Linked DNA regions of Homo sapiens: region 1 is linked to region 2. Evidence: fine-mapped QTL for protein levels in blood plasma. Region 2 holds a variant in brackets. A gene starts in the other region. All regions are shown on their forward strands.

Region 1 (11,905 bases), not on the chromosome of region 2:
CAAGCATAAACTAATGACTTCCTCTCTTACCTGTGCCTTTACCAGAGTCTAGCTAAAGACAGTTGGAGGAACAGGGAGTTGGCAGTCCTACTCACGGTAACTTCATAGTGTACTATAAATCACATGATGGCAAAAAGTATGCAGAACTTTTTCATTAAAGAATGTTCTTACAGAAATTCACAGTGAAAGAATCTGAACCATAACAGAGGATAGGAGAGAACAATAGAAAACACTTCAGAAGGGTAAAAACTGAGTTATTCCAGAAAAAAAAAATTTTGTAGATAAACCAGAATTAATTTTGCCCCAGAAAACTAATGTGAGTCCAGGTTAGATTGACTGATTGATTAATTGATTGGCCCAAAATGGAAGAAGACATCAAATGCAAATGTGAGACTGCCAATTGAATATAAAACAAAAATGATTTAATTAAACTTTGTGAAACACGTTGTCAATACTGGAATCAAAGTCGATGGATTATTGGAGTCAGTTATTGTAATTTTGGGACAGGCTTACAGAACAGGATCATATTTTGAAATACTAACTAATGTGTTTTCCTCCTGCGTACCCACAGCAGCAGAGTCAGCATATTCTATCAACTTGTTACTCCCACAGTGCCACATAGCACCTAACCTAAAACTAGCAAATAATCCACTTCCATTTAAAGGAGCACTAAAATTATAATGCTTTCTTGTTGCCACCATTGAATATCTACCCTTAGCAGCATTCAGCATGTCACTCATTGAGGATGAAGAAGTAATCATAACTACCTATTTATTTAAATCTTGCTCAACTTTTTTTCCAAAATATGACACATGGACAATCCCTTTCTCGAGGCCCTACTTATTTACAGGAACATTGCAGATATATTGTGGGTTTGGTTCCAGACCACTGCAAGAAAATGAATATCAAAATAAAGTGAGTCGCAAAATTTTTTTGTTTCCCTGTGCATATAAAAGTTGTGTTTACATGATACTGTAGTCTATTAAGTGTGCTATGGCATTGTGTCTACAAAATAAGAATCCCTTAACTTTAAAATACTTTATTACTAAAAACTGCTAACAATTGTTTAAGCCTTCACCACGTCATAATACTTTTCCTGGTGGAGAGTCTTGCCTCAATGTTGATGGCTGCTCACTGATCAGGAAGTTGGCTGCTGATGGTTGAGGTGGCTGTGGCAATTTCTTAAAAGAAGTCAGCAATGAGATTTGTGGCATTGATTGACTCTTCCTTTCACAAAAGATTTCTCTATAGCACATTATGTTGTTTGGCAGCATTTTATCCACAGCAGAACCTCTTCCAAAATTGGAGTCAATCCTTTCAATTCCTGATGTTGCTTTATCAACAAAATTTATGATGTAATACTCCGTATCCTTTGTTATCATTTCAACAATCATCACAGCATTTTCACCAGGAGTAGATTCCATTTCAAGAAACCACTCTTTGTTCATCCATAAGAAGTAATTCTTCATTTATTCAAGTTTTGTGATGACATTGTAGCATTCAGTCACATCTTCGGGCTCCACTTCTAATTGTCTTACTATTTCTACCACATCTGCAGTTATTTCCTCCATTGAAGTATTGAACTTCTTAAAACTATCCATGAAGGTTGAAATCAACTTCTTCCAAACTCCTGTTAATGTTGACATTTTGACTTCCTTCTATGAATCACAAATGTTAACAGTACTTAGAATGATGAATCCTTACCCAAAATTTTTCAATTTATTTTTCCCAGATCCATCAAAAGAATCACTATCTCTGGCAGCTACAGCCTTACAAAACGTATGTCTTAAATAATACTATTTGAAAGTCAAAATTACTTTTTGATCCATGGGCTGCAGAATAGATTTTGTGTTCACAGGCATAAAGGCAACATTAATTTCTTTGTACATCTCCATCAGAATTCTTACATGACTATGTGCATTCTCAATGAGCAAAAGAATTGAAAATACACTTTACAAGGGAGATTTACAAATGGCAAGCAAGCATCCTTAAAGGTGTTCAACATCATTAGTAATCATGAAATAATAATTAAAAGCTTAATGGGATACTACTAAATGCCTACCAGTAGCTACAATTTTAAAAAGAATGATGATGATGATATGGAGTAGTCAGGGCACACTTCCTTTGTGGGTGGGAGTATGAAATGGTAAAACTCTTTTGACAACAGTTTACAGCATGGCTTATTGAATATTTTGAGCCCACTGTTGAGACCTACTGCTCGGGAAAAAAATAATTTTCTTTCAAAATATTACTGTTCATTGAATTTCCTAGGAACCATTATGAAAATTCAACAGATGGCATATCTGTATCTGTTCCTGTACTTTAATTGGTTTCATGGGTCTCTCTGTCTCTCCTTACTCCAACTGTCCTTGTTAATGTGTTTTATATTGTGCCTTGAAATCAGATAGTGTGGTTTCTCTTTGTTCTTCTTTTTCAAAATTGAGCTGTTATAAGTCTTTGCTTATTCATATAAATGGTATAAGTGATGTATCAATTTCTCAAAAACAGCTTAATGTGATTTTTATTTAACGTTGCATTGAATGTGCACACTGACTTGGGGAGAATTATCAGCTTAGCAATTTTGAGTTTTCTAATTTATAAACATGATATTGACACTTTGTTATTTGCTTCAGTCTTTTTATCTTTTTTTTTTGCAGCCTTGTGATATACAGCATAGAATTCTTGTTCATCTTTTGTTCAATTTATTCTTAAGTGTTTTATAATTCTGATGCTATGGTAAATGGTATTTTAAAAATTCTATTTTCAAATATTTTGCTGGTATAACACAGAAATAAAGTAGACTTTTACATATTGTCTTTTTATCTTCAAATTTTATTAAATTCACTTATTGGTTCAGTATATTTTATAATTTATTTTTAGTTTTCTGTATTAATGACAATTTTATCTGCAAATAAGGACAGTTTTATTTCTTCCTTTTTCATTTTTATGTCTTTATTTCTTTTTTAAAACTTACTTCACTGCCTATAACCATTAGCATAAAATAGAGTTGAAATACTGAGACTAGAAATAATTGTCTTGCTCTTTTTGAAGTAGATCAAGTGTTATTCAAATCATTTGTACATTAATTAATATTTTTGTCTACTTCTATTAGTTACTTAACGGTATTAAAATTTCTAACTGTGATTGAAGATAATACCTGTTGTAAGTTCTAATTGGTAGTTTTGTTTCATGTAATTTGAAGCTTATTTAGTAAGCATGTATAAATTTATAATTTTTTTTATTTATTGACCATTTATCATTATGAAATGTGCTTATGTATCTCTGATAATACTTGTTTTCTTGCAGTCTGTTTTGCTGAATATTTATAAGGCCACTCTAGACTTCATATGGTACTGGTTGCATGGTGTTTTTCTTTCCATTCTTTGATTTTCAATCTGTATATGCCTGAATTTAAGCAATTTTTTTTCAAACCATCACAGAAAGCTGGCTGGATATAGTTCAATACAAAACTTTCACAACTTCCATTTACTACAAAGAACGGTCTTGTGCACAGCAACATTGTGGTCTATTTCTAATACATGAGCCACCACATGTTTTCCTGTTCTATGACATAATCCCTCCCGGTCATAGCATTCATCAGTCTGGTCTCAAATTCAAGTTAGGGAAAAAAAGTCAAAACTGTTTCTAACGTCAGAAATATATTGTGTTCCAAAGAAAATAACTTCCTGTCTGATTTACTAATACTGCAATTTTTGGAAATCAAAATGATTCAAAGTAAAATATTTTGTTAAAGCAATTTGGTCAATTTACTCTTCAGAGGAAGTCACGCTTTAAAATCCCAAAATGCTAGTAAGAAACTTATAGTCCAACATTAGCCAGAATTTCTAGGATTTTGTGACTTTTGGCTTGGCATTGCAACACCTTTTATGTCAGTGTGAGCAATTTCCTAATTCCCAATTCTTATACTAAAAAATAACATTTAAAATATGCATGAAAATAGTTATTCACTGGAAATTCATAATGAGATTTAATGAATTAGTGGCAAAAAATCAACTCTAAGACATATTTTTTTCTTATTTTTTTCTTTTGATCTTTGTTTTGTCGATGTGGTGAGGGCACTGGTGGTAGTGGTGGTGTACTTGTGTGTTTGTCTTTTAAGTTCATGAACATTGCCTGGGATACTTGTCAAATGTTAGGTCTTCCCTATTTTTTCAAGCAGTGACAAGGAAGGAAAAAGACGGTTTTGAATGTCTAGGAAATACAAAAATCACACATATACAAATATATTACAATTATTCCTATTAAAACGGCAATCCTGAGGTTCTACTATATATTAAATGAGAATTAAATATATTATGAAGTAATACAGAAGACAGTATCTGCTGAAAAATACAAGTTATGAAGGTAATGTTGATCAGAAATTATATATCAAACAAGCATTATTTAGCACAGTATTAGAAATCTAACTTACATAAAAGACTTTTGTAGTATAGAAATGCCTTCTCAAAGTTATTTAAAATATCTAACATTAAAATATACATACATATATATATATATATATATATATATCTTTCCTTAGCCCAGAAGAAATTTTTGAAGAAAGCAATGAAGACTTCCTGTTTCTGAAAAACTTAAGGCTTTTAGAAACATTTAAAACTTTAATTCTTATCTTTTTTTATCCTATGTAGCAACTCTTGTTGTCAACAAAAACTTTTCTAACGTTTGCACAGTTGGACAACAGATAACTAGCTGCCCCATCCACACAAGAGGTGGGGAAGAGAAGCCCAGCTATGATTATTTGAAATCTAGCTCAGTACAGACTAAGTCAAGGTTCATTGATTTAGTCCTCAAACAGATATAATCTGAAATGAGCAGCAAGGAAAATTAGATAATTGGCAAAAGGAAGAAAAATATTCCTGGCATTTCAAAGCAAAGGTGAAGCAACCCTGGAGCAAAGTCATTCCCTGGATGATAGTACTTCTTCATTGGACTACCAGCTCAATTTAGGAGACAGACTGCATTCACATTGCAAAGTAAACTCAGCAGTTGCTGGTGTTTTTTCCTTTTTCTTTGCATACATGCAAGTTACTCTATCCTCCACTTAAACTCTTATTGCCTTCCTTATACTGAAACACTTGATATGCTTAACCTGATAATAATTATTGCAATTATATAGCATTTCTTAAAGGTAATACAAAGAATGGTGAATATAAAAAATAAAATCTTGGAAAAAACATTTGAAAAGGCCTAACCTAAGCCAAATACTAAATCATATAATTAAAGGCTTCTCTAGTTAGAAAAAATCAATTTAGAATGACATACACACACTGTTAACATTCAACGCAGTGTAATGTAATCAGATTTTTCCATTGTCATTTATCTCCAACAATCTCTATGTCACAAAAACTATGTAATTTGGTTAATACATTAGTTATATGTATTTTTTCTTTTAATATCAAGTGCCTTGCCGGATTCTGAACATTCTTTTGAACAGTTTGAATTCAAAGACAGAAAATATCGTTGATATCATTCTAACTTTCCCTAAGAATAACCCAGAAATAATTTCCCACATAGGAGGCAGCCAATTCAAAATTGTAAAGTTTAAAAAAATACAGGAGTTAATGACAATAAACAGCCCCATTCTTTTCTCTTTAAGATCTACTTGTAAGGTAAAGAACACCGTAAAATTAAAAAGTTGTTATCATTATCCATCACCAAGTGCTCATAGACTGTTCGCTGTTGAACTAAGAAATTATGTGAGGTTGTGTGAGAAATGTAAGATATCGTCACTGATTTTAAGGAGTTCGTAGTTGACTTGAGGGAGATAAAAGTAAAATTAAGGAGTAATTAAACTCTGCCTCATGCAGTGGTTATTGTAAGTACACTAGATGTTCGAAGAGCAAAGGTGGAAGGAATACTCTATTCTGGCTTTGTCAGAATAAGCTTTTTCAAAGACAGGACTTTGAATTTGCCTTGAAGAAAGTGAGGGATATAGAAAGTGGTTTCAAGTTGAATATGTTGGAAGTCTCTTTTACCCTTGATATTACTGTGGTCCCAAAGATAGGAGTGAATGGATTGAGGTTCTCAATAACTTAAAATGTGGTTTCTGGGAAATATAATAAAGTGGTTACCCAGATTGTGGAAAGCCACTGTGGGGTGTTTGCCAGCAACTGTGAAGAAAGTGGTTTGTAATCTGGAAACTATTAAAAATTACTGGGGCACGTTCTCTGGTGTTTAACTGCCAATTCTGGATTTTCTATTACTTAACTCATTCTCTGGGAGAGAGATTTTTTTTTTTTTAATCAGCCTCAAAGAATAAATGTGAAGCTCAAGAAATAATGAGCATAAAAGTGTTTTGAACGCCACAAACTCTTTGGAATGTTTTCATTCATATTATATTAATCTGTGGTACAATGACTAAAATAGGATTGATTTTGACAGGGAGTAAACTTTTCAGGCCATCAGGATGCAAATGGCATTGGAAGAATTTTTCCCTTATTGTTGGGAACAAAAATAACACAGAGCTTTTCTCTACCAGCTGGACACAGTGCAGGTAACACAAATGGTTTTCCTTTAAACTAGTGAAAAGGGAGCAATGACTTTTAAAGTCCTATGTCTGTCGTAGTTCTTCATGCTTTCCATCTTAACCTCAGGGGATCTTTGCATCATTCATGTTCCCTCCTGTATTTTTACAAGGCCAACATCAGAGAATGCCTAGATAGAAGCCAGACATGGACAATGACCCAGGCTGATTTTCATGGGAAGCCAGGAAAAGCGACACATTGCTTCCTGATTAGGTTGGGTAACCCAACAACTCACTTTTATTGGGGACTTTCTATTACTTGCTTATCAACTGCAGAAATATTTTTTCTTCTTACATTCTATAAATAATCCTTTGTGAATTGATTCAGAGTGCAAAGCAGGTAAGACATGTGTACTTATAAGACCATCAGGAGGAACTGGCAATCTTGTCTCATGATTCCTCTCTGATTTTACCATTTGGTGCCAAAAACAAATTCATATGTTCATTTATGTTTAAAATGGCTTATTCAGAACTAACCCACATACAGACAGGGAGAGAGAGTTTAAAAGTCAATAACCTATGTCATCTCTAAACTTTTTTTTAAACAAAGCCTTATACTGTGGTTTATTCCCTGTGGTTAAGTTGAATTAATTGCCTAGGAGCTGAGTCACATTTTTGAAGTTTTGTCTTAGCCATTTCAGCAAGGCTTATCTTTTGTCTTTAGACACATTCTAATCTTTAAAATGTCAATATGCTAAATCTGCAGGCTGTTTTCTACAGATTACCACTCCCCAAAAAGATGAAGGATTCCATTTGCTGAGTCAGGTATGATGTTGATGGTGTCAGGAAGCTGTGAGAACTTCTCATTTAGCTTCCCACAAACTGAAGGCCAAACCACCCAGCCTTCCTCAGCCAATGAATTTCTTGTTTCCTTCCAGAATCAAAATTGTAAAGGTCTGTGACACCTCTTTCTTGCTCACCAATGGAGGTGACAGGAGAGGAAGTTAATAAAATTCCCCAGTGTCACAAGGGACAAGGAAAAGAGTTGTGTTCCATAACTGGCTTCTCAATGCCGTCATGTTTACTGATGACCTTTGCTGGCCTGCACTGAGGACAAAGTTCTTCAGAACCAGCCAGAAGAGGATCTAGTTAGACTTCTGTGAAAGAAAGTCTATGTGCCATTCCAGTGCCGTACTCATGCCTGCCATGGAGCAAGACGGTGGAAGACACTTAAACCTTCAGTGCTTTAACTCCTCCACGGATAACAAAGAAGGAGAGAGGGAGAAGCTGGAAGCTACTTCACCCTTCAATTTCAGGAGGCAGTGCAGGGCTCACTGGGGACTAGAACAGGTCTGCAGAAACAGCCTTGGTCACCAGTAATCATGAAATTAGATGGTTCCAGAAGCCTATGGGGAGAATTCCTCCCCCCATGAGGTTGTTTGGGGGAAAACAGACTGGGTGCTATTATGCTGCCCAATTGATGCAAATCTCTAGAAGAAGCTTTCACATGAGCCCCTCAAATTCATCAACCTCCTACAGCATCTCCAAATGGTGTCAAAAACACACCTGGGGGTGGGACCAGAGCTGGGGCAGGCCCGGGCTCCCTGGCAAACTTCAGTCTATGCTCACCATACTACACTTCACTCCCAATAAGACCAAAACCTCTTCCAATTCAATAGCATAGCAACCGCCAAAAGTACATTTTATCTTCCATGGCAATTTGCTGGGTGATTTTTGTTTGAAGATATTTTTGTTTATTAAACTGCCTCAACACACATATGCTTGCTAAACTACAAGTATACAATTTCTAATAAACAGATTTCACTTTGGGGCCAATTCAGGCAACTTGTTGACTTCAGGTGGGGATAGAGCCTCTTTCATCACGTTATCTTGGCTTCTAAAGCTGTTTGAAATCCAGATAATCAAAAAGTCATTCAAGAAACCTAGAATGACCTGCCTGCAAGAAGAGGAAGGACTCTCAGTTTAGGGCAATAATCATGAATAACATTTCCTGAATAATAGTAATAATAATTAGAAAGGATTGACTTTCAGAAATTTTTCTCAAGTCAAAGCTTCCACTACTATGGTTCCAACTTTTCTCTCTTTTTTTTAATTTTATTATTATTATACTTTAAGTTTTAGGGTACATGTGCACAATGTGCAGGTTAGTTACATATCTATACATGTGCCATGCTGGTGTGCTGCACCCATTAACTCGTCATTTAGCATTAGGTACATCTCCTAATGCTATCCCTCCCCCCTCCCCCCAGCCCACAACAGTCCCCAGAGTGTGATGTTCCCCTTCCTGTGTCCATGTGTTCTCCTTGTTCAATTCCCACCTATGAGTGAGAACATGCGGTGTTTGGTTTTTTGTCCTTGCGATAGTTTACTGAGAATGATGATTTCCAATTTCATCCACGTCCCTACAAAGGACATGAACTCATCCTTTTTTATGGCTGCATAGTATTCCATGGTGTATATGTGCCACATTTTCTTAATCCAGTCTATCATTGTTGGACATTTGGGTTGGTTCCAAGTCTTTGCTATTGTGAATAGTGCTGCAATAAACATTCGTGTGCATGTGTCTTTATAGCAGCATGATTTATAGTCCTTTGGGTATATACCCAGTAATGGGACGGCTGGGTCAAATGGTATTTGTAGTTCTAGATCCCTGAGGAATCGCCACACTGACTTCCACACTGGTTGAACTAGTTTACAGTCCCACCAACAGTGTAAAAGTGTTCCCATTTCTCCACATCCTCTCCAGCACCTGTTGTTTCCTGACTTTTTAATGATTGCCATTCTAACTGGTGTGAGATGGTATCTCATTGTGGTTTTGATTTGCATTTCTCTGATGGCCAGTGATGGTGAGCATTGTTTCATGTGTTTTTTGGCTGCATAAATGTCTTGAGAAGTGTCTGTTCATGTCCTTCATCCACTTTTTGATGGGGTTGTTTGTTTTTTTGTTGTAAATTTGTTTGAGTTCATTGTAGGTTCTGGATATTAGCCCTTTGTCAGATGAGTAGGTCGCGAAAATTTTCTCCCATTTTGTAGGTTGCCTGTTCACTCTGATGGTAGTTTCTTTTGCTGTGCAGAAGCTCTTGAGTTTAATTAGATCCCATTTGTCAATTTTGGCTTTTGTTGCCATTGCTTTTGGTGTTTTATACATGAAGACCTTGCCCATGCCTATGTCCTGAATGGGTAATGCCTAGGTTTTCTTCTAGGGTTTTTATGGTTTCAGGTCTAACGTTTAAGTCTTTAATCCATCTTGAATTAATTTTTGTATAAGGTGTAAGGAAGGGATCCAGTTTCAGCTTTCTACATATGGCTAGCCAGTTTTCCCAGCACCATTTATTAAATAGGGAATCCTTTCCCTATTGCTTGTTTTTCTCAGGTTTGTCAAAGATCAGATAGTTGTAGATATGCGGCATTATTTCTGAGGGCTCTGTTCTGTTCCATTGATCTATATCTCTGTTTTGGTACCAGTACCATGCTGTTTTGGTTACTGTAGCCTTGTAGTATAGTTTGAAGTCAGGTAGCGTGATGCCTCCAGCTTGGTTCTTTTGGCTTAGGATTGACTTGGCCATGCGGGCTCTTTTTTGGTTCCATATGAACTTTCAAGTAGTTTTTTCCAATTCTGTGAAGAAAGTCATTGGTAGCTTGATGGGGATGGTATTGAATCTATAAGTTACCTTGGGCAGTATGGCCATATTCACGATATTGATTTTTCCTACCCATGAGCATGGAATATTCTTCCATTTGTTTGTATCCTCTTTTATTTCATTGAGCAGTGGTTTGTAGTTCTCCTTGAAGAGGTCCTTCATGTCCCTTGTAAGTTGGATTCCTAGGTATTTTATTCTCTTTGAAGCAATTGTGAATGGGAGTTCACTCATGATTTGGCTCTCTGTTTGTTTGTTATTGGTGTATAAGAATGCTTGTGATTTTTGTGCATTGATTTTGTATCCTGAGACTTTGCTGAAGTTGCTTATCAGCTTAAGGAGATTTTGGGCTGAGACCATGTCTCTGTTTGTTTGTTATTGGTGTATAAGAATGCTTGTGATTTTTGTGCATTGATTTTGTATCCTGAGACTTTGCTGAAGTTGCTTATCAGCTTAAGGAGATTTTGGGCTGAGACCATGGGGTTTTCTAGATATACAATTATGTAATTTGCAAATAGGGACAATTTGACTTCCTCTTTTCCTAATTGAATACCCTTTATTTCCTTCTCCTGCCTAATTGTCCTGGCCATTGGAGAGGAGGAGCATCTCCCAGACAGCTGCGTGCCTCAGAGAAGCCAGCCTCGCTAACCCCTCAAGCCCAGGGGATGAGACCCTGCTGAATCGCTGCTCTATTTTGGCTGGAGCCACAGCTCCCTCCACCGCGGGGCGGGGCTAAAATGTCCTCCCCCTTAAGGGAGCAGGCAGCTCCTCCCAGCCACCCACCCCACCAATTCCCATCCTCCCGCCCCCCTCCACCAACCCCTTCTTTCCACACTGCCCCCTGAGTTCAGGGAATTTCCCCAGCATCCCAAAGCTTGAGTTTCCTGCCAGTCGGGAGGGATGAATGCAGATAAAGGGAGTGCAGAAGGCACGAGGAAACCAAAGTGCTCTGTATCCTCCAGTCTCCGCGCCTCCACCCAGCTCAGGAACCCGCGAACCCTCTCTTGACCACTATGAGCCTCCCGTCCAGCCGCGCGGCCCGTGTCCCGGGTCCTTCGGGCTCCTTGTGCGCGCTGCTCGCGCTGCTGCTCCTGCTGACGCCGCCGGGGCCCCTCGCCAGCGGTGAGAGCTCCTGGCACTGGGGTGCATCCCAGCCTCTGCGGGGCCGCTGCGTTCCAGGGAACTCTCCCAGCAACCTGCCCTATAAAAATGTCTTTCTTCCCCAGCTGGTCCTGTCTCTGCTGTGCTGACAGAGCTGCGTTGCACTTGTTTACGCGTTACGCTGAGAGTAAACCCCAAAACGATTGGTAAACTGCAGGTGTTCCCCGCAGGCCCGCAGTGCTCCAAGGTGGAAGTGGTGTAAGTTCTCCTGTGTTGCTGTGTCCACTGTGACTTAGGCAAGTCCTCCAGCCTGGGTCGTCAACCTTTGTGGCTCATGGGTGCATCCTCTTTTTCTTTACTTCAGAGCCTCCCTGAAGAACGGGAAGCAAGTTTGTCTGGACCCGGAAGCCCCTTTTCTAAAGAAAGTCATCCAGAAAATTTTGGACAGGTATTTGTCCCTTTGATCTTTGTGGTGTTTTAATATCTTCTATGGAAAGCATATACTTCACAATGTCCTTATTCTCTCTGTAGGATTTAGACTATGCTTAGAATTATAAGGTTGTTAAGAAGAATAAGGAAACTTTTTTTCTGGAATGTTCTGGGTAAACCTTTATCACCAATCTTACATGCCTGAACAATTACACAGAGCTCATTACTGACA
Region 2 (12,077 bases):
TATGTACGTTCCTAAACAGCAATAACTGTTATTGTGAATTTGAGCTCTCTGGATTGCAACCCTTCTTCTCCCCTTTAAGATACTTTTGGTATAACGAAATTTCTTAGGAATACTATATGGTGTTTTGGCAAAACAGACTACTGAGAGAAAAACAAATAAGGCTACAAAATACCACATTTTTATTTTGTTTTTTAAAGTGTTACATGCATAGACCAAGGTACGGCAGGATATACCACGAGTAGACAGTGGTTATCTATAAGTGGGGAAATAGACTATTATGGTCTTCTTTAGTTTTTCTGAATCTTCTCATTTTTTAATGTTTTTTAATTGTGTTAATTTTTTATAGAGACAGGGGTCTCACTATGTTGCCCAGGCTGGTCTCAAACTCCTGGCTATAAATGATCCTCCCTCTTTGGCATCTCAAAACACTGGGATTATAAGTGTGAGCCACAACCCCTAACCCCCAAGATAATCTTTTATAAATTTTTTATAAATTTATAAAATTTTCTCCTTTTCATACTATGAATCTGGGGATTTGTGGTTTTTTAAAAAATCAGGCAAGAGGAGGCCGGGCATGGTGGCTCACACCTGTAATCCCAGCACTTTGGGAGGCAGAGGCGGGTGGATCACAAGGTCAGAAGATCGAGACCATCCTGGCAAACACGGTGAAACCCCGTCTCTACTAAAAATACAAAAAATTAGCTGGGCGTGGTGGTAGGCGCCTGTAGTCCCAGCTACTCAGGAGGCTGAGGCAGGAGAATGGCGTGAACCCGGGAGGCAGAGCTTGCAGTAAGCCGAGATCACGCCACTGCACTCCAGCCTGGAAGACAGAGCGAGACTCCATCTCAAAAAAAAAAAAAAATCAGGCAAGAGGTGTGGATTTAGGCTTTTGTAGGGCAGGGATTTGTGAACACTTTGCTCCTGCTGTTCCTCAGGTACTGCGGGAGGCCTGACACACAGACATTGCTCCATTTTTTTTTCATAAATGAAGAAAGGATACAAATAGGGTCAAATGCTACAGAGAGGAAGTGTTGTCCGGAAATCCCATATGCAGAGACCTAGGGAAGGAGCTGAAGACTGGGAGAGGTTGACACAACAGTGGGGTAAGAGGGGGCAGGAAGCCAGAGCAGGTTCAACATTGCTGAGGAGGTGGGTGGATCAGGCACTGCAGGGGGATTCAACCAAATAGAAGGAGCAGAGGCCACCTCCTCCCTGGACATCAGATGAGAGACAGGGAGGAGAGGAGAGTAAGTGTGGATGCTGGTGAGGCGTCAAATTGCTGAGGAGCCTCCGGCCCAGCAGCCTTAGTTTCTTAGGTCAATGGGAGGCAACTAGCTGAGAGAGAAAGCAAGACCATGCACAACCTTGGGATGGCAAGCTAGAGAGGAAAGTGACCAAAATAACAAGAGGCCAGGAGAAAGCCGGAGAAAATCACTAAGTGGGAGGAATATAACAGGCAAGGAAATGTTAAATATGATAATAACATGAAATCAAAGCATGATGTAGGCTGATTTTTAAAAATGAAAAAAGATTGAAACATAATAACATGAAAACTGCATTAAATTATTCAACGAAAATAGTATGAACCTAAGCTGTACTGACAAGACATTGTGATGCTATGACACATGACATTGAAACATTCAAGAAGAAATACCGCAATGAAAAAATGTGGCTGGGCGCAGTGGCTCACACCTTTAATCTCAGTACTTTGGGAAGCCGAGGCGGGTGTATCACCTGAGGTCAGGAGTTCAAGACTATCCTGGCCAACATGGTGAAATCCCATCGCTACTAAAAATGCAAAAATTAGCCGGGCATGATGGCAGGTGCCTGAAATCCCAGCTACTCGGGAGGCTGAGGCAGGAGAATCGCTTGAACCCAGGAGGCAGAGGTTGCAGTGTGCCGAGATCACACCATTGCACTCCAGCCTGGGCGAGAAGAGCAAAATTCTAACTCAAAAGAAAAAAAAAAGTAAAGTAAAGAAAAATTACTAGAAGGTTTTCTGTTCAATTTTGCTGTGAACCTAAAACCACTCTGAAAAATCAACTCTTTATTGTTTTTTAATGCTAGAAGGCAATAAACCAAAATGTGCACTGGGTTGACTTTGAGTGGTGGAAATATGAGTGCTTTTTTTCTTTTTTTACCCTTTTTTTGGCTCTTTCTGTGTTCACACTCTGTACCTGTGTACCCCATGAGTCAGCCTGTGACTCAGCACCTCAGGTAGCCTTCCAAGGTCCCTCCTCCCACATGCATCCCTGAGGCTGCCTGTACCCATTTGCCAAGTTTGCCTCCACCCTCTACCAGTTCCAACCCGGCCACCTGCAGGGGAACAGGGCCAGGTTTCCCTGAGTGTGTTGCTGGCACTGCCAAAATCTCCCCAGTTTTTTTCACTTTCACTCCCAGCCCCATCTCCCTACTACTTAGGTGAGAAGCCCTGGACCTGGGTTGGTCTTGGCCTCAGCACTCAACTCCTGTAGCCCTCAAGGTCTCCCTAAGCCCCAACCCTGAGGCATTGCCTTTAGCAGGCCTGTGTGCTTTCCTCCTGACCCCCAGAAATGAGCTCCTCCCTAAGAGCTCTCAACCCTTCATTTCTTTCAGGGACATTGCTTGCACTGACTTACGTGAATTCCAGAGTGAGCCCAGTTTAGGTTCAAACTGAGACTCTGCTCAATGTTGCTAATCTCCCCTCACAGACTTGAAGCACCCTTTGAGCAGTGGGCCTCAGACCTTAGCTGCAAAGTGGAGCAGAAAAATAGGACCGTAGCTGATGAGATGTGGGATCAAGGGAGGGTTGTTATAAGATGGGAACTCCTACAACAGGCTTGTGAGCTGATGGGCAATCCAGAAGAGAAAAAAATGGATGTCACAGGAACAAGGATATACCTTGATCACTTTCCAAGCTTTATCTTTTCATCTCAAAACATCTCTTGGAAAGAGGTATATCTCAACTCTCCTCCCAACTCCCTGGAGCTATGACATCATGTAGGAAACACTGCCATCACAGTTAGAGGATTTGGAGTTACATCCCGATTTCCCAGTGGACTTGCCTTTCCAAGACTTCTCTGCTGTGATAAATAATGTTTGCCATTTATGGAGACCTTAGTCTACCCTGAAAGCCTGGCATACATTACCCTGAACCTTGACAACAAGCTTCCAATGCTGCCATCCCTTCAAGGAGGGAGGGGTCCAGAGAAGTTAAATTACTTGCTCACGATCACACAAGTCGGGATAGACTAAGCCCTAGGCTACCGCAAATTCACCCTGTGGCTCTCTCTCCACCACAGCACCTCTCTGTGTGTCACACAGCAGTTGAGAGCTCAGACTCCGAAGGCAGCTGGTCCTTGACTTAAACTCCAGTTTTGCCACTTACCCGCTGCTGTTATCTTGAGTGAGGGACTTAATCTCTTTGGCCCTTATTTTCCTCTTCTGTAAAATAAGGATAATAATAATTCCTACCATCAGGTCTTGATGACCATTAAATAAAATAATTTATGTAAAAAGTGTTTTTTTCAGTGCCTGGCACAGAGTAAGTCTTCAATTATGATATCACGGGAAACACACTATACATATAAGGATTTAGATAAGGGTTCTCCTTGTGTTGTAGAATCTAAAATAGAATTCAGGGATCAAAGTGACAATTTCATGGAAATAGGGCGGAAGCAGCTGATCTTTGGGTCTTTTTTTTTTGGGGGGGGGGGGACAGAGTCTCACTCTGTCACCCAGGCTGGAGTGCAGTGGTGCGATCTCAGCTCACTGCAACCACCACCTCTTGGGCTCAAAGCGATTCTCCTGCCTCAGCCTCCCCAGTAGCTGGGAATACTACAGGTGTGCGCCACCATGCCTGGCTAATTTTTGTATTTTTAGTAGAGAAAGGGTTTTGCCATGTTGGCCAGGCTGGTCTCAAACTCCTGACCTCAAGTGATCCACCCGCCTCAGCCTCCCAAAGTGCTGGGATTACAGGTGTAAGCCACTGCACCCGGCCTGGGTGCCTTTCAACAACTCGTTGCTCTTCCCTTGCAACAAAGCCCTCAGGAATCCCAGATTGCTCCTCTCTCTGTCTCCTTGCAAAATCTTCCAACAGATTAATGTTAGCATCTAAGTCCAAAGTGCGGTCCTACCAGTGAGCACAGACCTACCTGTTAGTGAGAGGCTGAGCTTACACGTTGGACTGGAGTGTGCCCATTTGCTCATGAAGTTGAAGGCTTAGAAAAGAGGATCCTATGCTGGAGAACAATTTCAAAACTCCATTCTCATCCCTGGCTTAATGACTGAAAGAATTCCCCCAACCCAGGGGCATTTGCTCTTTTTCTAAGAGGCCTGCCTAGGCCAAATAAAAGAATGGCTGACAGACCAGGGAGGGAAATATTGGATGGGGAGGTGGAAGAGAGGAGAAAGAGAAGGGGACAGAGAGAGGCCTTCTAGGAACTCCTCAGGTCAGACTTGGTCAGCAGCTGCCTGGAAAACACATACTAAGAACTGGCCTTCACAGGGCACCTAATTGTGGATAATCACGATCTGGGCAAAGATGGATGTTTCATGTCAAGTTCACTAGAGCTATAGTCCTGTTTGTCCATCGCAGTACACTCTTAGATTTCGAGCATCTCCCATTCTTAGAACTGGAAGGAAGCTTGCCTATTCAAACTTCATTTTATGGGAGCGGAAACCAAGGTTCTGAAAATTTAAGTGAAGATTCAAGTAACACAGCAACTAAGTCTGTCTTTTTGCTCTGTTTTATTTAATTAGAAACATTTTTCCAAATCTTCAGGTTCAGCTTGTGGTACACTAGGACCCCCAGATAGATCTCTTTGTTCCAGTGACCCTACAGGAAATTTCATAAACTCCTCACATACCCTCCATTCACACATTTCCTTTGTCCCCTTAGATTTTATTTCTTTAGTACATTACTTTGTTTGTTTGTTTGTTTGTTTGTTTGTTTGTTTGTTTGAAATAGAGTCTTGCTCTGTCACCCAGGCTGAAGTGCAGTGTCACAATCTTGGTTCACTGCAACCTCTGCCTCCTGGGTTCAAGCAATTCTCCTGTCTCAGCCTCCCAAGTAGCTGGGATTACAGGTGCCCACCGCCACACCCAGGTAATTTTTTTGTATTTTTAGTAGAGACCAGGTTTCACCATGTTGGCCAGGCTGGTCTCGAACTCCTGATCTCAGATGATCCGCCCACCTCAGCTCCCAAAGTGCTGAGATTCCAGGCATGAGCCACTGAGCCTGGCCCATTACTTTGTTTTAAGACCTAGCACGGAGTTGGATGCAAACAAGCATTTGTTACATAATCAGACAACTAGCGGATTCTCACTTAGGAACATGTGGGAATGTGCACAAAGACAGTACATGCTGAGTCTTGCCAGGGTCCCACTCAGAGGAGTGCTCAAGTATGCTGGCCAAGTGGGGAACCCTGCACTGCACAGCCCTGAGACCTGTACCTGCCTAGTCTCCCCACACCCCCAATACCTTTAAAGCTGGAGCAAAGTCACCTCTTTCAGGAAGACAGCCATGTTGTTTACAGTATGGGAACCAAGGGAGAGGTACGGATGTGGCCTCTTAGGTTTCAGTTGGGCAACACAATTCCTTCCCATGTCGGAAGTGACTAGATTTCTTCAGCGGTCCCTCCCCATTTACCTTCTAGATCTTACTTCTTCCATCCCCCTGATGCAAGCCTGGCTAAAAAAAAGGGGGTGATAGTTCTGGAATAACGTTGGGTCATTCATCCCCAAAACAGACATACATATGCACCCATGCATAAGCAACATGCACGTACACACTGTGGGTTACCTAGAAATCCCGTCAATGTATCCTCCTGGGGTACATAACATTTTCTGGAAGAAGGTTTTAACATAAGAAAGGGAAATAAAAAACAAGAAAAGGAACTTTGTTTTTCGTTTGATGTGCTATCTGAATTTCTGGTCATGATAATGGGCTGGCTGAAGAGGCATAGCAGCAAATCAGCAACACAAACATGCCCTCCATAGGCATCCTAAATAACTTTTTTTTTAATTTTTAAAAAGGCTGGGCGTGGTGGCTTATGCCTGTAATCCCAACACTTTGGGAGGCCGAGGCGGGCGGATCACCTGAGGTCAGGAGTTTGAGACCAGCCTGGCCAACATGACAAAACCCCGTCTCTACTAAAAATACCAAAATTAGCTGGCATGGTGGTGGGTGCCTGTAATCCCAGCTACTTAGGAGGCTGAGGCAGGAGAATTGCTTGAACCCGGGAGGGAGAGGTTGCAGTAAGCTGAGATCACGCCACTGCACTCCAGCCTGAGAAATAGAGTGAGACTCTGTCTCAAAAATAAATGAATGAATTAATTAATTTTTAAAAATAAATATCTGAGGTCAATAGCAGGCAAGAGAGAGAGAAAAAATCTCCAAGGGCCAGAAATGAAGAGGGAGCTTAAAAATGTATGGACTTATCAGGGAGTAGGATTAAAGCCAGAGGAACCCAGAAAGATACTAGAATTGATCATGTACCTTAAGGATGGGAATGATAATACCAGTGACCCTAAAGGCCCCATGTATAGCAGAAACTACAACTTGATTGCCTATAAAATTGTCAGGACCAAGAAAGAGCTGCCATGCCCTTGAATGGGGATAGAAAAGCACTTTGCAGCCTGAGACACAACCCCCAAGTGAGCTGCCTTCCTAGGTCATGAGAGAAAAGGGGCCAATTGAGGAACATTCCAGAATCCCAAGCCCTAGTATCAAGTGATGAGGACCCAAATCTGTCATTTGCAATGGTGTGGAAACTCAGGGCCAAGAAATATCAATAACAAAAAATGCTCTGAGCTATGTAACCCAGTAAGGCCCTAGCAGGTACAGCCATAAAGCCACCCCTGAATAGACTTCTTCATAATCCAGGGCACATGCAAGACTCCCATGAAACAAAAAAATGCCTTCAAAAGATGAATTAACAATAAAATGTTACAAAGAGCTGACAATCATCACAATCAACAGTCAGTCAACAGCAAATGGGAGAATTCACACCTGAGGAGCTAAAGATAATAAAGCAATTTGGATCTGACTTTAAAATAAGTATATTTTTTGCCACGCACAGTGACTCACACCTATAATCCCAACACTTCGAGAGGCAGAGGTGGGAGAATCACTTGAGGCCAGGGGATCAAGACCAGCCTGGGAAACATAGTGAGACTCCATCTCTCCAAAAAATATTTTAAACATTAGCCAGAGATGGTGTTGCGTGCCTGTAGTCCGAGCTACCTGGGGGCTAAGGAAGGAGGATTTTTTTTTTGAGACAAGGTCTCACTCTGTTGCCCAGGCTGGAAGGCAGTGGTGCAATCTTGGCTCACTGCAACCTCTGCCTCCCAGGATCAAACAATCCTCCCACCTTAGCCCCCAGAGTAGGTGCATTCCACCATGCCCAGCTAATTTTGTGCATGTGTGTATTTTTTTGTGGAGATGGGGTTTCACCATGTTGCCCGGGCTGGCCTTGAACTCCTTGACTCAAATGATCCTCCCGCCCTGGATTCCCAAAGGGCAGGAATTATAGGCGTGAGCCACCGCACCCAGCCCCTAAATTTTTTTTTTTAAATAGGTCAAGCTTGGTGGCTCATGCCTGAAATTCCGGAAATTTGGGAGGCCAAGGAAGAAGGACTGCTTGAGCCTAGGAGTTCAAGACGAGCCTGGGCAACATAGTAAGATTCTGTCTCTACAAATTTTTTTTTAATTAGCCAAAGGTGGTGTTGCATGCCTGTAGCCCCAGCTACTCAGGAGGCTGAGGCAGGAGGATTTTTTAATTTTTTTTTTTTAAATAGGCAGGGTGCAGTGACTCAACCTGTAATCCTAGCACTTTGGAAGACAAGGAGAGGGGATCACTTGGGCCCAGGAGTTGGAGACCAGCCTGGGTGACATAGGGAGACCCCGACTCTATTTAAAAATTTAAAACTAGCCAGGCAGGCATGGTGGCACACACCTGTAGTCCCAGCTACTTAATAGGCTGAGGTAGGAGGATTCCTTGAGCCTGGGAGGTCAAGGCTGCAGTGAGCTGAGATTGGGCCACTGCATTCCAGCATAGGTGATACAGTGAGATCCTGTCTCAAAAATAAAATAAAATAGAATAATTCTTTTAAAAAAATTAAAGAATAAGGAAAACGAAGGGTGGAACACTGTCAAAGAACTAATACCAGATAAATTTACATAACCTAAATTTCCAGATTAAGAAAATTTACCAGGCGCCCAGCACAATGAATGAAGAAAAACACCACCAAGGTACACATCATGCATTCTAAAACTAAAAAGAAGATTTAAATTCTGAAATGATGGCATACAGTTAAAATCCAAAGCAATCTTTAAAAAAATCTACTAGAACCAATAAATGAATTTACTTAGGTCCCAAGTTACAAGGTCAATATACATACTGCAACTGTATTTCTATATACTATGGTAACCAAAAAAAGAACTGGAAAATGAAAACTTTTTAAGATATCATTTGTAATCGCATCCAAAAAACCCATAAAATACTTAGGGACAAATTTTGCAAAGTATGTACAAGATTTGTGTACCAAGAACTATAAAACATCCTTTGCAAAAAAATTAAAGAAGACATAAATAGAGAAAGATATCGTGCCCATGGACTGGAAGACTCAATATGACAATGTCAATTTTCTCTAAATTGATCTATGAATTCTACATAATCCAAATCAAAATCCCAGCTGGACATTATATAGAAATTGATAAGCAGATTCTAAAATTTCTCTGGAAACATAGTCAAAGCAATTTAGTAAAGAGGAACTGGCCCCTTTCCTAAGAGTCACCTGTCCAGGTTGGAAGAAGACAATGAAGGACTCCCGGAGAGAGGTCTTTGAGAAAGAAAAATTAATAGATTATCCGCTGAGTGTGAATGTATTGAGGGAGACATTGGAACTGATGTCATGATAAGTACATGGAACATCCTCTCATCAATTCCAGGGAAAACAAAACTTGTACAAAAAAAATTGGATCCTACTGTGAATAATTTTTTACATAGTCATAATAACAAAAAAATTGAATGTCGACTTAACCAAAAAATGTGGCATCTGTTTCTGGAGAATGGAGAAGGCAGTATTTGTGTTTGCTTGGATTGGGGTGAAAGCAGGAGAGGGACTGGGAGAATATTACATTCTCAAAGCCAAAAGAGAGAGTCAGTGATGATAGCTAAACCTGGAGGGGGAGAAAAACAAGAACTAGCAGAGGGCTGGTCACAGTGGCTCACACTTGTAATCCCAGCACTTTGGGAGGCTGAGGTGGGGGGATCACTTGAGGTCAGGAGTTCAAGTGATGAACTGGCCTGGCCAACATGGTGAAACCCTGTCTCTACCAAAAAATGCAATAATTAGCCAGGCGTAATGGCGGGCACCTATAGTCCCAGCTACTCAGGAGGCTGAGGTGGGAGAATGACTTAAACCAGGGAGGCGGAGGTTGCAGTGAGCTGAGATCATGCCACTGCACTCCAGCCTGGGAGACTGAGTGAGACCAAAAAAAAGAAAAAAACTAGCAGAACAAGTATGATATTTAGAAATATATAGATCACTATCCGATGAAACAGCTATGAGAGCTGACAGCTGCTGCCCTTGTCTGCAGGGATTGGAGCTGGAAGGCTGCTGGTTTTTTGTTATAAGCTTCATAAAGCCATTTCGTTTTTTCAACAATGTGTATAAAATACTTAGACAATAGAAAGAAAATTTAATCTTAAAAAGTCGAGTTAACATATTTCGATTATTTTTTATTTATTATGTCTTTGATTCATTTCTACCCTGAAGGTTGGAAGGAAGACTTTGGATTTAAAAACTGAATACCAGGCTGCAAGAAAACATTGGTGCTGAGAGCTCCGCCGTTAGCTCCTTGTGGCTTTCTGGGTGGAACCTAGAGTGGCCTCTCTGACCTCTGCATGGAAACGGCAAAAGACAGGGCTCCACCACTGTCTCTTGGTGAGTGGTCTTCTCTAGGAAGGCACCTCTTTGGGACGATCCTTAGACCAAAGAGGAGATTGTCATGTTACTCATTTGCATCTATGAGATTTTTCAGTCTCTGAAAGACTCTTATTAAAATACTACTTTGCTGAGAAAGGGGCAAATTTTACCTCTATGGCATAAAATGTTGATTGTCAATTAGTATTTTTGCTGGAATTAACAAGAATGGGCCAGGGGATGGAGGGCAAGGGGTGGTGAGAGGCTGTGGTTGGTCAGAAGTGGAACTGGTTTAGGGGAAAACAGTAGATTTTCACATTTTGATTTAGAGTCTCAAACGTTGTCACCAAGGCTACAAAACAAACTTTAGGATTTTAACATCAGGAAGCATTGTGCAGAACATGCCGTTACATCCTAATCCCCGTCCCTCACCTTACCCTGATGTACATCCCCTCTGTAATCCCAATCTCATCACTGACCCCTCCCATTTCTGACCCCCACTCCTGTCCTAAGATTCACCCCATCCCTAGTGCCAGCCCCATCCTGGACAAGGGAGTCCCTCCTTAAGGCAAACACTCTCCCTGGCTCTGACTGGATCTAATCCTCACCCTATCTAGTAATTGAAATATCAGTTTTTGGTACTTCAATATGCTGTTAACTAAGTACCAAAATCCTGACATTTTTTAAAAATCTGAAATCCAAATCATTTGTGTCTTGAGCTATACCCAGAAAATTACAGGCTGCATTAGAATTTCCAATCAGCCTGGGTGCAGTGGCTCACACCTGTAATCCCAGCACTTTAGGAGGCCGAAGCAGGCAGATCACTTGAGCTCAGGGGTCCAAGACCAGCCTGGGCAACGTGGCAAGACTCCATATCTACAAAAAATTTTAAAAATTATCTGGGCATAATGGCGCACAGCTCTGGTCCCAGCTACTCTGGAAACTGAGGTTGGAGGATCACCTGAACTCAGAAGGTTGAGGCTGCAGTGAGCTGTGTATGCACCACTGCACTCCAGCCTGGGTGACAGAGCAAGACCCTGTCTCATTAAAAAAAAAAAAAAAATCCAATCGAAAAATGTTGCACTTGTTTGAAGAGTCCACTATATCCCTCCCCTGTTTAAAACACTTCTGAGTTATTTTGTTGCTGTTTGAGCCTCATTTAGTTCCTAGTGAGACTGAGCATTTTTCATGAGGTTATGAGTCATTTGCATTTCCCCTGGACCCAGTGTGGATCCCTATTTACTTACTGAAGCCTCTGATGGAGTTGTCCTTGCAGGAGCATAAGGTGAAGAAGGAGGAAGTTGGACTTTGAGGAAACAGTAGGAGAGGTGGAGGGAGATCAGCGGAGGGAGGAG[A/C]GGAAAAGGAGGCCCCAGTTCTCAGCCTTCTGCCCTAGATTCTCTGTGCATCCTTTGCATCCTTCTTGTCTTCTCTGCTGAATCAGGTCTATCTCTTAGGGCTCGAGTGCCTAACTCCCTCCTCACTCACCTGCCTGGAGAGTCTTAAGCAGGACAGACTGAGGAGCCTCTGTCTTTTGGCCCCGGAAGAGGATCTTAGATGATGCTCCAGATAGGATGGTGACCCTACCAGGCACGTCTTCTGCTCCAGCCTTATAGCTACTAAGCCTTCCCTGATATTCATTCCAGGCCTGACACCCCCTCCCTGAGCCTCACCACTCCCCCACACTTATCCCATTCCAAAGTCTCACTCTCCATATCTGGTCCCAGCTCCATGTTGAATCTCCCTGTTCCCAACACCTCACTGTGACCCTGACTCTCACTCTCCCTCCTTGTAGATCTCTACCGATTCCTGGCATTCATCCTTCTCTGACCTCATCCCAAGCTGCCACCCCATCCCTGCCCCCATCCCAGCTTTGATTTCAACATCAATCACTGATCCCCATCTGAAGCTTGATCTAGGTCCTGTCTCTGAGCCTCACCCTATTCCCAACCTCAAGCCTTCCCTGATCCTTCCCCACACAGGCTAAACCCACACTCTCAGTTTTGCTTAAGCTAGTTTGACTTCTCTTTCTATCATTTGCCATCAGAAGAGCCCTGACATCTTAAGTCCTCACTTGGGACATTTTTACACAGATAAACATCTAATGAAGCTAAACCACAAAGGCAAACTTAATAAGTGGACAGACGGAGGCTGAAAGCGGAGAGGACAGA

Alleles and levels. Alleles are on the strand shown, and positions count from the first base shown. The strength of an association depends on the size of the effect and on how common the allele is.
As copies of A replace C in region 2, the plasma level of the protein whose gene starts at base 11,084 in region 1 goes down (weak association).

Evidence for each region. A credible set is the group of variants that fine-mapping cannot tell apart. PIP is the posterior inclusion probability: the model's chance that the variant is causal. The UK Biobank Pharma Proteomics Project read protein levels with antibody pairs (Olink). The fine-mapping took linkage between variants from a reference panel, not from the people measured, so its PIPs are less certain.
Region 1: CXCL6 starts here. The variant in region 2 is the best candidate, but not a certain one, in a credible set for the plasma level of the CXCL6 protein (UK Biobank, PIP 0.83).

The regions. Positions count from the first base shown.
Region 1 is chr4:73,825,595-73,837,499 of GRCh38, forward strand. It overlaps CXCL6 (C-X-C motif chemokine ligand 6), which reads left to right and starts at 11,084. Exons shown (of 4, transcript NM_002993.4): 1 at 11,084-11,265; 2 at 11,370-11,502; 3 at 11,609-11,692. The coding sequence starts at 11,157. RefSeq lists silencers at 7,158-7,452, 11,058-11,352.
Region 2 is chr2:218,150,711-218,162,787 of GRCh38, forward strand. No RefSeq gene overlaps it. Among named protein-coding and RNA genes, the nearest start is that of CXCR1, 10 kb to the right of the region's middle. The variant A/C (reference allele first, on the strand shown) is at 11,265.